2 separate regions of the Homo sapiens genome follow, and region 2 is linked to region 1. The links come from fine-mapping of genetic effects on gene expression. A gene starts in region 1. The other region holds a variant in brackets. All regions are shown on one strand. Distances are from middle to middle. Region 1 holds the start of P3H1 (prolyl 3-hydroxylase 1). Region 2 overlaps TMEM269 (transmembrane protein 269).

Region 1 (4,389 bases):
GGTTTCACTATGTTGGCCAGGCTGGTCTTGAATTCCTGATCTCGTGATCCACCCGCCTTGGCCTCCCAAAGTGCTCGGATTACAAGCGTGAGCCACTGCACCCAGCCCACCACCATTTTTTTTTCTTTTTAGACTTGCTCTGTCACCCAGGCTGGAGTGCAGTGGTGTGATCTCAGCTCACTGCAACCTCTGCCTCCCAGGTTCAAGCAGTTCTCCCGCCTCAGCCTCCAGAGTAGCTTCGGACTACAGGCACACACCACCATGCCCGGCTAATTTTTTGTATTTTAGTAGAGACAGGGTTTCACATGTCGCCCAGGTTGGTCTCCAACTCCTGAGCTCAGGCAATCCTCCCGCCTTAGCCTCCCAAAGTGCTAAGATTACAGGCGTGAGCCACCACACCCAGCCTCATTTTTTTGTTTTTTTTTAAGAGTCTCACTCTGTCACCAATTCTGGAGTACAGTGGTGCGATCTCGGCTCACTGCAACCTCTGTCTCCTGGGCTCAAGCGATTCTCATGCCTCAGCCTCCCGAGTAGCTGAGACTACAGGCATGAGTCACCACACCTTTTAGTAGAGACGGGGTTTCACCATGTTGGCCAGACTGGTCTCGAACTCCTGACTTCAAATGATCCACCCACCTTGGCCTCCCAAAGTGCTGGGATTACAAGTGTGAGCCACGGCACCTGGCCAAAAAGTACATTTTAGATAGTTAATATGTTTGATTCAATTTGTTTGTCTCTAAAGTTTTTTTTTTCTTCAGCTTCTCAAATACAGATTGTATTGGGGAAACAGAGGCAGCATAATAATGCATCCTCTGTATTTCATAAGATTATAGGATGAAAGACAAAAACTGTGTTCTTTCTTCCATCTGTTCAGGCCATCGTAATAAACACGATAGTCATTCAATAGCACATGAATACGTTGTGTGCACAAGATTCTGTCCCTGCCAACCTCCCTCCCAATAAGAGTAATCTGATTAACTAGATGCATATTCTCTTAATAAATAAAAGTTGCACTTTGCTCCCCAGCTCTTCAAAAAGAAGAAAGCCAAGTTTTGAATTAAAGGAGCTTTCTGCGTATCTGAATTTTTCTTAATTTTAAAAAAAAAAGGATTCGAAGGATTTCTAGGATCATTGAAAAAAAAAGAGATGTGAGGGAATTTGAGCACATTAAATAATTTTGGGCAAAGCAAAGACCCTGGAACATAATCAAGGCCAAATCTGATAGTGTATACAGGGATAAGGGGCCATGATAATCTTTAAAACAGCAGGACCCTCCATCTGTGGACACTGAAGAGGGTGTACAACTGGAAGTCTTGATAAGAGATAAGAAGGAATCTGGTTTTTCATTGAATAATGACAAAACTTTAGATCTTGGAGCTCTACTACTTCAAACCTTTCACTTCACAGATAAAATAGTTGAGGTCCAGAGAGAAGTAATCTGCCTTAAGTCGCACTGCAAGTTAGTATCAAAAGTGGGATTAATACTCATGTGTCCAAACTTCCAGTGTTTTTTCCATTATTTCACATTTCCTCCTTATTTGACTTATTTTGGCCATCCATATATAAACACTGGGCTTGGGAATACTGTGTTTAATGAGGACTAAACTTGGAGTCCTTGCCCTGCTAGAAGATGTTTAAACTCTCAGGTAACAAAGATCTTATGGGAAGCAGCTTAAAATAAGCGGACCTTGAAACTTCCCGAAGAACTTTTCTTTGTGTCAAATGGGAAGAATAACTCTGTACTGCCTACCTCACAAGGCTGTCCTAAGGTGCAAATGAAATAATGAACACTAAAGTGTTGTGTAAACCTTCCCACGAAGGAAGATTATGGGCACTCAAGTTGCAGTTAGAGGAACCTTTGGTCCCAGAAGGTCATTCGAATCAGGCCACCGACTCACAATGACAGTCGGCTTTACTCGTCTGTAAAATGGAGACAAGAGCAAATGCCACCCCCACCATAGGTGGTAGTGAGGTCTGAGCCGAAAGACGCAGAGTACAACGTGAACGAAGATGGTTATTCGCTGCCCCGGCCGCGCCTCCTCACCTTCTGCACCTGCTCTGCGAGCGCCACGAGGTCTAAGGGGTCCCCGGCCCGGTGGGTGTGGTAGGGGCTCACCAGGGCCAGGCCGCCGGGGGTCGGGGTGAGCTCCACCAGGGCTCCTGCGACACACACCCAGGAACACAAGCCGTGAGCTCCCGCCGTCGGCCTCCCGCGGAGCCCCGAGACCGGCTGCCTCGCGGGAGCTGACTTCCCCCTGCTGACTCCCGCCCCGCATACCTCCCTGGCCTGCAGCTGGCGGCGCTCCTTGCCTTTCAAGGACCCCCTCGGTCCGCCCCGGCGCGGCGGCGTCCTCCATGACAGCGCCTTATCCTCCCCACTCCCTGGGCTGTGCGAGTAGGAAGAGCCTGCGCATAAAGGCGCGTGGGCGGAGCTTCCGTCTTTCTTGTCTACTGGGCGTCAGTTCGACTGAGCAAGGCCTGAGCTCGGAGGCGGGGCTCCGGCTGACGCGCCGGGATTCGCTGAGGGCCGGTGGGGGGATCCGGGCTGACTGAAAGGAAAAGAGGCGGTGCAAGCCTCGTGGGCATGCGCCGCCCGGCTTGGAAGGTGGGGCTTCGCCCGGGGGCGGGCCTTCGCCGGGGGTAGGACTCCGGCCTTGGTGGCGGGTGGCTGGCGGTTCCGTTAGGTCTGAGGGAGCGATGGCGGTACGCGCGTTGAAGCTGCTGACCACACTGCTGGCTGTCGTGGCCGCTGCCTCCCAAGCCGAGGTCGAGTCCGAGGCAGGATGGGGCATGGTGACGCCTGATCTGCTCTTCGCCGAGGGGACCGCAGCCTACGCGCGCGGGGACTGGCCCGGGGTGGTCCTGAGCATGGAACGGGCGCTGCGCTCCCGGGCAGCCCTCCGCGCCCTTCGCCTGCGCTGCCGCACCCAGTGTGCCGCCGACTTCCCGTGGGAGCTGGACCCCGACTGGTCCCCCAGCCCGGCCCAGGCCTCGGGCGCCGCCGCCCTGCGCGACCTGAGCTTCTTCGGGGGCCTTCTGCGTCGCGCTGCCTGCCTGCGCCGCTGCCTCGGGCCGCCGGCCGCCCACTCGCTCAGCGAAGAGATGGAGCTGGAGTTCCGCAAGCGGAGCCCCTACAACTACCTGCAGGTCGCCTACTTCAAGGTGCAGACCTGCCTGGAACCAGGCGGCCGGGGTCCTTCTGGGGAGAGGAGTGTTGCAGGGGACCTGAGGAGCTTGGGGGATCGGGGAAGTGTCCGCAGGGAGGGGAAAGTGGCCTCCTGGCTGGGGAGCTCTCCTCGGAGCCGGGGAGAGCTGCTCCCTGGCAGGAGACCTTCCTCGCCCAGTTCGCATGGGCAGATGCTAACCCCAAAGGTCCAGCCTGGGGTTAGGGCACAGGCCAAGCAAAACTCATGGCCATTTTGTTCCCTGGGAAATCTCCTGGAAGGAATTAAAGCGGCAGTTTGGGTCTCCCATTCTGATGTCATTGTAAGTGTCCGAGTGAGAAGCTAGTAGCGGTCTACAATATCTCCCTTCCGGTTGGTTTTCCAGTGGTGCTTTTCCTGCTGTTTGATTCAGCAGCTCTCTTTCAGGATGTGAGGTTGCCACGTCGCCAGCAGGGGCTGCCTGGCCCTTTCTGTGTGTGTGTGGGGGCGGGGGGGGGACCCTCTGGCTAGTCTGCCAGGTTTACAAAGAAAATGAGTATTTTTCGGAATGCCAGAGTGCCATGTGTCCAAGTGTACACTTGGGCTTGGAGCGTTCCAGGCTTGTTTGGTGGTGGTGATGGTGACGATGATGATGATGATGATAGCCAGCACATACTTCCAGGCACTATTTTAAGCAGTTTGCATTTATTAACGCATTTGCCCTAATCTTCATAATATCTTGTCAGGTAGATGCTGTTATTAGTCCCACTGTATTGGGGGTGGGGGGAGAAAGAGTTGTGCATTATATCTGGTATATCTGTTGTTTAAAAGACCTTCGATTCGATCTAAAGAGACACTTAGAGACTCTTGGGGACCTCAGATTTCCACCCCTCCACAGCATTCTGCCTACACAGTTCCCCTCATTTTTCCTAGTTACTCGGAAGAGCGCTGGACTTGAAATCAAAATAATTGCGTTATGTCTTTGGTTATGTCGCTTCATCATAGCACTTTCTAAAACTATTTGACAAACATGTATTGCATACCTACTGCATTCCAGTTCTTGTACAAGTAATTAAATGCTCGACTAACGTCTTTGCTTTGTCTTGCTTTGCTGTTAAGAGTTACTGTAGTAAGGGCTACTGCAAGGGCATATACTTAGGGCTGCGGGAGCACAAAGGAGGGAGACTCTAGCTTTATCTCAGAGAAATTAGACTTCAAAGAAGAGGTAATATTGAAGCCTGCCCTA
Region 2 (4,389 bases), 31 kb before region 1:
TTATCAGACACAGAAGTAGGACTTCAGGTTAGGAAGAAGGGACTAGAAGTTGACCAGGAGGGAAATCTACACTCTCTCTCAAGCTTAGGACAAAGAGAACTGCCTAAACCCCACTGGCTTCATGTATGCATTTGAGAAGTGCAGATTTTAAAGTCTTGGCCTTCTCCCTTGTTCCTAAGAGGAAGCCCAAGAAGAGACATTCTATTTTAGAAAACCACTGTCTGAGGAAGTGAAGGCATTGAATGAGTAGCCTTAGTATCTGAGACCCTCAAGCCCGTATAGAAGTATAACCATACTCTCAGAGAGGTGCAAGGAAGCATAGATCCCTCTGTTAACCGGCTGTCAGCTGACCTATAACTATCCTAGTGTCATTAACCTACAAAAAAAACTGGAGGCAATTAAGTATGAATTATTGCCATTACAATCAAGCGATAATTTACACATCCAAATGGGCATTTTACTTTTCAAAGCTGTCCTCCTGGGGGTCTGTATATTTCTCTCTGCTGCTGTCACTTAAAATGGACATGGAAATTCTCTTTCAGAATTGCATCTTTTTCCTTTCAACATAGTTTCAAATTTTAGAAACAGCCACAAGGCATTTGAGTCCAAATATGATACCTAATTTGATTTAAGAATACGACATAATTGGCTAATCTCAAATGTTAGGTTTTTGGAAAAAATTTAGTTCAGAATAAAACCTGTTTTTCGCTTTTGGTGGTGGTGGTGTTGTTCCAGCTGCTTGGTCCTTAAGAATTTATGTGAAGACCATTTTCAGATTGGAGTTCCTAAAATGCTTTGATTAAGGGGAGCATCACATTGAAATGGATGTACAGCATTGAAGGACATTGTATTGAAATGTCTAAGCTCGTGTATATTTGTAAAATTCTTACCACATTATAGAAACCTTGTATGTAACTTACTAGAATCCACAACTAAATCAATTCATATACAAAGGGAACATTTCTGAGTGTCAGGCACTATGGCAGATAGCAAAAATACAAAACTTAAACTGAAGGAGATATAAAGTCCTGGGACACAGGCAAATCCATCTAACTAGGAACATATGAATGATTTAACAGGAAGGCACCGTCTATTCTGTTACAGTCAAATCTTACTTTGGGTTTTTATTTTTAAACATCTAATTTGAGAATAGATGTATATTTACCACATACATTGTTCTGGAAACTTAAAAAAGTTATATCCAGGGTAGAAGGTGTTCTGGCACAGTCTCTGAGGGTGGAGCAGAACCAGCCATCAATCCTTTTTTCCACCATCTGGGAGGTGGAATGTCTATCTACGCTGGGGGCTCAGTGGACCTGAGTTCTCGGTGAGGTACACCTTTGCCATACAGTACTGTTTATTTCTATTTGATTTGGATTTTAGAATATGAAGTGGCATCTGAATAGCTAGAGTTTAGTAGTTTCCAGCGTAGGAAAGAAAATCCACACGAGATCCTGCAAGCCAGATGATGCCCTGTGTCACCAATGTATCTAACTGCTAAACAAAGCAAAAGGCGGCAGCTTTGAACTATTAAAATACAGAATGTAGGCCGGGCGCGGTGGCTCACGCTTGTAATCCCAGCACTTTGGGAGGCCGAGGCGGGCGGATCACGAGGTCAGGAGATCGAGACCATCCTGGCTAACACGGTGAAACCCCCGTCTCTACTAAAAATACAAAAAATTAGCCGGGCGAGGTGGCGGGAGCCTGTAGTCCCAGCTACGCGGGAGGCTGAGGCAGGAGAATGGCGTGAATCCCGGGGGGCGGAGCCTGCAGTGAGCCGAGATCGCTCCACTGCACTCCAGCCTGGGTGAAAGAGCGAGACTCCTTCTCAAAAAAAAAAAAAAAAAAAAAAAAAAAACCCAGAATGTTGAAGTTACAAAATCCTACACACATTCAAACTAGGCAACAAGAGAGTCCTGTGATTGGCTCTACTCTCAGAGCCAGAGTCTGCAAGAGTAAGAAATGCTTCAGGAAGCCCCACCAGGCAGGGCTGAGGCTGAGGCCAATACCAGTTCTGAAGGCT[C/G]TCACTCCTTTCCAAGGGATGGACCTTAGTAGCACACAGTCACCCGGCTGGTAATGGAGCTGGAACCCAAACCCAGCCCACATTGAGCTTGAGGCGGGGGGATATTCTGCTCTACATGACATAAACAAGTATTGTCCGCAAGGGAGTCAGAACCCTGAATAAAGACAAAGAAGTGAAGTTCACTGACCCTGCTTTGGGTTTCTAACTTCATGGCAACAGACATACCATATATCTAGTATATGGCAACACAGGTACATACAAAGCTTTAGTGCAGGCTTGACCCAATATGCTGACACAAACCCCACAGAGGCCGGCAGGAGCTGGTAGAGCTGCTTAGCTTCCTCAGTGCTGTGGCGAAAGACAGGCTGCCTTGCCCCACAGAGCATCTGGAAAGAAGATGTACGAGAGCGACCACATCAGGCAGTAAAAAGCAGACAGAGACAATGGGGAGAAAAACAGCATGATGACACCTGGAAGAACAAAAAGTGCAGACACTCAATTTCTAGGAAGCTGTCTTCTATGCTTTCTACCCTCTACTCTCCCGTCCCCACCCTCCCATTCTTTACTTTTCACCCACAGTGCCTAAGAAACAAACAGAAAGAGACAGGAGCCCTGTCTTCAAGTTCAGTTTAATAGAGATAGGTAAGTAACTAGAGAAGTATAGCCCAATGCAGTCTCAGGTTCCACTGTGTCAAATTCACATCAGAAGTTCCAGCCAATAATAAATCTGAATTGCCTTTGTTAGGGAAAACAAAACAAACCAAGACAAAAACCAAAAACCCTTGTTAGGAAAAAAAAATCTTCCTCATTGTTTTAAATTTAACATGTGATAACGACCAATGCAGTATGATATGTATGCAGAAAAGAGTTTACGTGCAGGCCTGAGACTGCTATCCTCAGAAAGGCCTTCTTGCAAGGCTGGCCCTTGGCTGATGGCTGGAAACTTGAATAGTAAACAGTTCCCTAGACCAACATAAAACTTTCCCCAACTGATAAGAGTGTCTCACTGTTCCTAGACTGTCCATATAAGCACGGTGGTAACACCTGGTTTCCTTCTGGGAATCTGGAATTTTGGTACATGGTAGGCACAGGGTGCTGACATGACCATCCCCCAGTAAAACTTGGGCACTGAGTCTCTCATCAGTTTCCCTGGTAGCCAACACTTTATTGTATTATCACAATTCAGTGCTGAGGAATTAAGTGCATCTCGTGTGACTCTACTGGGAGAGGACTCTCTGAAGCTTGCACCTGGTTTCCCCTGAACTTTTTCCCATGCACCTTTTCCCTTTGCTGATTTTGCTTTACATCCTTTTGCTGAAATCAATCTTAGCCATGAGTACAACAAGCTGAGTCCTGTGAGTCTTCTCAGGGGTGGTCTTGGGGACTCCCAACACAATTTGCATCTCAGATTCGCCACCAAAAGGCAAAAGAGCACTCACGTTTGTGGAATATCTATTTTGCACTAGACATTCTGCTAGATGTGTACATTTTTTTCATTTACACTTCACAATAATCCCGTGGTTTAGAACTAAGTCTGTTTTTCATAAGAAGAAACAGAAGTAACCTGTACGAGGTCCTGATTCAAACCCACTTCTGCTTGACTCTTAAAAACTAGACACACTGCCTCAGGGAGCTCAAAAAGAGGACAAAGAGAGTATGAGCCAATGGTATTTCCATGGGAATGATCACCATGTATCCTGTAAGAGAAATCAGAACATATGATCTGATAGAAGACCACTTCTAGGAGTAATAAGCAGTTAAGGATATGCATGGGCATTTTGGAATACTGTATTTCAAGAATAGTCATTGATCTGTTGAGGCAAAAAGACAATACTGAAAACCAGAGTTGTCTTGGAAAGTACATGGCTGGCGCGTTGGCTCATGCCTGTAATCACAGTACTTTGGGAGGCCAAGGCAGGAGGATTGCTTGAATCCATGAATTTGAGATCAGCCTGGACAAAAGAGTGAGACCCCTCTCTACCATGTATGTATGATTTTCGGCTACTCCCTGTAAAAAAAAAAAAAAAAAGTATTTCATATAAGGTTTCAGAGTGCTGGTCACAGGCCAGTTCTCAGACGTACGAAGCTCTGTGGGGTAGAAGGGACCTCAGTCTAAGAAGGTGACTGGCTGCACTCCAAATAAGAGGAATGTCCACAGAAGCCATTTTGAAATCTACCCAGTAGGGCTCTGGTATTAACTGTTGTCAAAATCTGTAAGGTGCAGTTTCCTCCCTTACTCACACAGCAGGACAATCTGAGGAAGGCTGAGGCCAAGTATGTGGTTTATTTTGAGAAGAGGGGGATCAGTAGTATCTACAGGAGCGAAGAACACTAAGCAATACTACTGTTATGAGATAGGAGAAGGG

Evidence for each region. PIP is the estimated chance that this variant, and not a neighbour inherited with it, causes the effect.
Region 2: its variant is the best candidate, but not a certain one, in a credible set for the expression of P3H1 in whole blood (TOPMed, PIP 0.52).

Annotation. Positions count from the first base shown.
Region 1 is chr1:42,765,280-42,769,668 of GRCh38, reverse strand. It overlaps P3H1 (prolyl 3-hydroxylase 1), which reads left to right and starts at 2,641. Exons shown (of 15, transcript NM_022356.4): 1 at 2,641-3,162. The coding sequence starts at 2,698. C1orf50 (chromosome 1 open reading frame 50) reads right to left here and starts at 2,420. Exons shown (of 5, transcript NM_024097.4): 1 at 2,279-2,420; 2 at 2,045-2,160. The coding sequence starts at 2,357. RefSeq lists silencers at 2,133-2,272, 2,893-3,002 and an enhancer at 3,263-3,382.
Region 2 is chr1:42,796,202-42,800,590 of GRCh38, reverse strand. TMEM269 (transmembrane protein 269) reads right to left here. Exons shown (of 6, transcript NM_001354602.2): 6 at 1-2,493. The coding sequence ends at 2,366. Among named protein-coding and RNA genes, the nearest start is that of TMEM269, 13 kb to the right of the region's middle. The variant C/G (reference allele first, on the strand shown) is at 2,024.